2 separate regions of the Homo sapiens genome follow, and region 2 is linked to region 1. Evidence: fine-mapped expression QTL. A gene starts in region 1. The other region holds a variant in brackets. All regions are shown on one strand. Distances are between the middles of the regions. Region 1 holds the start of GPRASP3 (G protein-coupled receptor associated sorting protein family member 3). Region 2 overlaps ARMCX5-GPRASP2 (ARMCX5-GPRASP2 readthrough).

Evidence for each region. PIP is the estimated chance that this variant, and not a neighbour inherited with it, causes the effect. A credible set is the group of variants that fine-mapping cannot tell apart.
Region 2: its variant is the best candidate, but not a certain one, in a credible set for the expression of GPRASP3 in lung (TOPMed, PIP 0.53).

The regions. Positions count from the first base shown.
Region 1 is chrX:102,719,351-102,722,273 of GRCh38, forward strand. GPRASP3 (G protein-coupled receptor associated sorting protein family member 3) reads left to right here and starts at 1,393. Exons shown (of 4, transcript NM_001142524.2): 1 at 1,393-1,475; 2 at 1,607-1,741. ARMCX5-GPRASP2 (ARMCX5-GPRASP2 readthrough) reads left to right here. Exons shown (of 19, transcript NR_146584.3): 7 at 1,184-1,471; 8 at 1,607-1,741. RefSeq lists an enhancer at 1,200-1,259.
Region 2 is chrX:102,697,728-102,700,650 of GRCh38, forward strand. The region is part of intron 4 of ARMCX5-GPRASP2 (ARMCX5-GPRASP2 readthrough); the gene reads left to right. Among named protein-coding and RNA genes, the nearest start is that of GPRASP2, 13 kb to the right of the region's middle. The variant G/A (reference allele first, on the strand shown) is at 1,673.

The sequences.
Region 1 (2,923 bases):
GAGGCTGAGGCAGGAGAGTCGCTTGAGCCTGGGGGGCAGAAGTTGCAGTCAGCTGAGGTCGCACCACTGCACTACAGCCTGGGTGACAGAGCAGAACTCCGTCTCAAAAAAAAAAAAAATTACCAAGGGTGTTAAGTTTAATATTAGTCTGTTCATGGTACAAAAATGGCACCTTTTTCACATAATTATTACCGTAAAAAACATAACATTTCCTTTTGAGGTGACAACAAAGTTCTGGAGCTAGATAGTGGTGATGGTTGTACAACATTGATAATGTACTGGGTTGTATACTTTAAAATGGTTAAAATGTTAAATTTTATGTTATGTGTATTTTGCCACGATAATTTAAAAAATGACCACACAATACCTTCAGTCAGGAGAATTGGAAGACAGGGCTATATGTTGGTTTGGAGAGGAAATTCAGACGTACGAGAAATATCCAATGTTTTATTATTTTTAGACATAACATTTATTTGTCTGAGAATGTTCTAAATTTTCAAAGGTAAAATTACAATTCATGTAAATGTAAAAAGAATATGTGAAAGATTTTTCAACACAATCAACAACTGCTAGGATTAAGAAAACAGTTGAAGGGTATATGTGTATATACAATATACACAATATGAAGATATAAACAAAACATTGAATTTCATAAACACATAGGAAATTAATAAATGTTAGAATAACACTGCCAGGTTAAATATAAAACGGGTTAATATCTTACAGGGCAATAAATTGTAACATTTAAGGTTTTCTATTGCACTGGACATAAATCATTTACATATTTATTGAATAAAATATCTACATGTTAACATCAGTGTCTACAGAGTTGAAAAATAGGTAAATCAATAGACATCCTGCACTGCCCTGAAATGACATCCAGTAACTGAAGGTGACTTTATCTAAGTTTGGTATAATTTTTCTGACAGTGCAACATGCTTTTTTTCCCCACCTGATCCTAGTTTGGTAAGGTAATATGGAAGTGGCAGTTTTGCCTCCCATCGCAAGCCATAAGTTTTAACAGGGATTATCCTGGTGGTGCAAATTGGAGTTTGAATGTTTGTTTTGCTTACCAGCATTTTTCAAGACAGATCTGTGTGTGTTTTAGTATGTCGCTTGAGTCGTATACAAAATATTAAAAATCACTTCATTTCCCAAATCCTCATCGAATGTTCCTCGCCAGCCGAGTGGTCCTCCAGAGCAAAGGCCAGCCTTCCTTCCAGCTGTCTGGCCAAGGAGCTTCAGGATCTTCTAGCAAGCACCCCAGAGGCAGAAGACTGTCATCCATGGTACAGGACTGCGGCGAACAAGCTGACTGCGCAGTCACGTGGGGCTGACGGTGGGTCATGTGACCAGGCTCTGCATTAGGCCTGCCGAGAGGAGTGTTTTCTTGCATCCAGAAAAGACCTGAGAGGCGGACGACACCTGTGCTCCGCAGAGCAGAACGTGGGAGGAACGGCGGGATGTTAAGGTAGGTAGGTGTCTTTCCATGCTGCATCAGCCTGAAAACTAATTTCTCAGGCGACTGGAACTACAGCATTTGTTGGTAAAGGAAACAATCCGTCAGCCAACCGGGAGCGTCTTAGCCCGTCTGTCTTTTGTCCAGGAGCTCAAGAAGCAGAGAGTCTACCTGCCCGACGCGTTCGTGGAGAGGAGCAGCGGTTGCTGTTGGAGGAGGTGGGTGCAAGGACGGCAGATGGCATCCCTGAGAGGTGGTGACTGAGACTAGATGCGGGTGCAGGTAATGCCTCAGATCCGCCTGCTCCCTCCTGCCTTTTGAACACCCTTGACCCCTCATCCCAAGGCTCCCAGCCCAGTGCCCTGTGTTTGTATGTGTGGGTGGGGGAGGTGGGCATATGGATGGAGTTGGCTTCAGGGGAGCCCAGAGCGGGGAAATGGTGAAGTGACAATTCGTGAACACCTGTGGTGCTGGATCAGGAAAGGCAGGGGTGGGGATGGGAACCGTGAGCTATGCGTCCGCACTCATTCTACTCTCTGTCTTCTTACTGGCAGTATTCAGGCAGTGGGGATGGCTGATACCAGCTCAAAACTGGCGGAGGGTGGAGGAGGGCAGAAGAGAACACATACATCTGCCTTTTGCTCCAAGGCTCCAGCTGGCTGGGGATGCAAGAGAGGAATGAACCTCAATCCCGGCAGTTCTAGGAAAAGGAGGAGGAGACATAGACTCGAGGGGAGGAAACCTAGATGCTGTGGGCCCTTCACCTAGGATTTCTCATTAGGATACTCCAAGCTTCTCGACCCCCAAGGGGATTCCTGGATCTCAGCCCCATGCAGCAGGATCTCATTCCCATTGAGGGACACAAAGTGGGTTGCTACTCCGTGTGAGCTCTCTCTCCCTGCTGTCTTGGGCCTCAGAGGAGGGTCTTTCTGGGGACCACCTACAGAAACTGCTTCATGGATAGTCTCCTAAGTTTCCCTCTGCATACCCTTTGCTCTCTTGTGTTGTGATCTCTGCTCATTCCTTAGGATGTGTTTCTTTGGTCCCATCCTAGGTAGCAGCCCCATGGTAAGTCCTTGTCCTCTTTCACATCGAGTATCCTCCTTTCCCCCTACCCCATGCACCCACTGGGTACCAAGTGAAAGAAAATGGTTCCTCTACCCACAATACTTCTGGCACAGAATGTGTGGATTTTTCACACCAAGCAATTCTCTTATTCTTTGAGGACATCAGCTAGGTATTCTACAATTTAATTCAATTCTGATACTACCCAGAGTTAGTGCAGACCTCTCTGGTTAAGGGCTCATTCCCATAAGACTGCCCTCCCTCACTTCAGACAACAGTCACAAGTAATGGATCTCCATGTCACCCACACTTCTGTCTGACTTAGCTACTAGTTGGAAGTTCCCACAACCCCCTCCTCAGGTTCAATAATTTGCTATAAGGGCCCACAGAACTCAGGGA
Region 2 (2,923 bases), 22 kb before region 1:
AAATGAAAACATATGTCCACATAAAATGTTGTGCACACATGTTCATAGCAGCATTATTCATGATAGATAATACATAGCAACAACCCAAGTTTCCATCAACTGCTAAAGAGATAAATAAAATGTGTTATATTCATACAATGGAATAATTTTCTGCAGTAAGAAGCAATGAAGTACTAATAAATGCTACAGCAGGGAAGAGCCTTATGCTAAGTGAAAGAAGTCACAAAGAACCATTGTAGTCAATTCCTATAATTTCATGTTGCTCTGGCATCCACCCTAGATATAGGGTTAACCTTCTAACTTTCTCATACCAAAGGCAGGGCCTAATCACCTAATTCTCCACTTCCTCCCACTTTTTCAATGTGGTCAATCCAGATATCTGCCTTACACAACAGATATCCACCACCCTCTCGGACAGAGAGATATAACCTACTTGACTTGCCCCACTGACCCTCATACCCAACATGGACAATGCAAATATGCCACAGTGATCACCTCTCAGTGATGGTGTGACCTCCTGGAACTCATCCCTACTTGCTTCAAACTCACCAGTTTGAACTCCTCATAGGAAACATGTTTGGGTAATGGCTTTGATCACAATAAAGGCCCAGCCTGCAGGTCTGTCCCACTCAACACCCATTGGTTACGCATCCTGCTGTCTTCAGACTTCTCATCAGCCCTTGTGGGCAACCCTCTTCTCTTGTAGATCTGAGTAATAAAAATATTTTGCATTTCATGTGTTTCGTTGTGCTGTCTTCTCTGTGCCTCATTTGACTTACACAACCAAACCTAACTATCCTCCTGGTCAGGGCTCTCCTTGCAAGTGGCTGTCTTAGCAGGGATAAACTGGACACAGGTCAAACAAGAGCCACAAGGGTATCTGCCAGTATAAACAAGTTTTCAGTGAGAGGGACACCTGGTCATAGGTTGGACACTTAGGCATTAGGCTGTCTGCCAGGACGAAGTATCCTGTGAAAAGCACACTGTAAACATTGAAGACCACCTTCCTTAGAGCCCCATTCAGCGCAGGGCTGGAATTTATAGCCACTCTCCAGACAGAGACCTCAAGACCAAATTAGAAAAAAAATCATAACAATAAAAATCACAACAACTACATATTAAATGATTCCTTTTATATGAAAAATCCAAAATAGACAAATTTATAGAGACAGATGAATTGTTGCCTCTGGTTTGGGGGTTAGGGCAATGCAATCTGACAACTAAGGGACAGAGAGTATCTTCTTGGGCTTAAAAATGTTACAAAATTAATTTTGGTGATGAATGCACAACTCTAAGTGTATTAAAGTCTTTGAATTGTACATTTTGAATTGGTGAATTGCATGGTATATGAATTGTATTTTAATAAAGCTGTTTTAAAGTATTTTAAACAGGCTGGGCACAGTGGCTCACGCTTGTAATCCCAGCACTTTGGGAGGCTGAGGCGGGCAGATCACGAGGTCAGGAGATCGAGACCATCCTGGCTAACACGGTGAAACCCCATCTCTACTAAAAATACAAAAAAATTAGCTGGGCACGGTGGCGGGCACCTGTATTCCTAGCTACTCAGGAGGCTGAGGCAGGAGAATGGCGTGAACCCGGGAGGCGGAACTTGCAGTGAACTGAGATTGTGCCACTGCACTCCAGCCTGGGTGACAAAGCGAGACTCTGTCTC[G/A]AAAAAATAAATAAATAAAAAATAATAAAATAAATAATAAATATTACAATAAAATAAAATATTATAAACAAGTCAAAAAACAGCATATACTGGAAACACTAGTTACAACAGATATGGCAATCTACAGGCTCATTTTGTGAGTTAACAAAGACATAATATAAATCAATGGAGTGAATATCCCAATGGAAAGCTGAGTAAGTAAATAATTAGTTCACAGGAAAGAAAAAAGGTTTGTAGTACTCAACAAATAGATTTGGGACTTTTGTTAATTATTACTATTGTTAACCAAGATTTCCTGCAGTCCAATTTTCAGACTCTTAGCCTTGCACTTCCCTACACCTTTGAGCACAACAATGGCCATGTAAGTTGCTTCGGTCAATACAATATTCAAAAAGATTTTTGTCAGTTCTGGCAGGAAACTTTTAAGAGCCGCTGTGAGATTTGTCATGATCGGTCTTTTCCTACGTCATGGTAGCCAGCAATGTTTCAGATCATAACTGTTGCGTTTAATCCTCATGAGTAAAGCTCCCAACAGACGTGTTAGACATGTAATATGAACAACAAATATATTTTTGTGATTTTTTTTTGAGACAGAGTCTCACTATGTTGTCCAGGCTGGAATGTAGTGGCGCAATCTTGGTTTACTGCAACCTCTACATCCTGGGTTCAAGTGATTCTCTTGCCTCAGCCACTCGAGTAGCTGGGATTATAGCTGTGCGCCACCATTCCTGGCTAATTTTTGTGTTTTTAGTAGAGATGGGGTTTAGCCATTTTGGCCAGGCTGGTCTCAAACTCCTGGCCACAAGCTATTTGCCTACCTTAGCCTCCCAAAGTTCTGGGTATTTTGGTTATTTTAAGTTGCCCAGATTTGGGGACCATTTGTTACGGCAATGTAATGTAGCACATCGTTATTGATAGGCTCCCTCACAATTGTAGAACACATTAAAATAATAGTATTCCATTTTTTACCTTTCATATGAACAAAAATAAAAGTTGGATAATTCCCAGTACTGACAAGGTGTTTCTGAAACAGACAGTTTCATTTTTAAAAAATATTCTTTTATTCATTGAGAAATAAAAATTGTATATATGTATGATGTCCAACATGATGCTTTGATATATAGATACATTGTGGAGTGACTAAATCAAGCTAATTAACACATCTATTCCATCTCATGAGTTTGTCATAAATTAACGAATCCCCTATACTCATATATTTAGGTTATATCTGTTTTTTCCTACTATAAACAA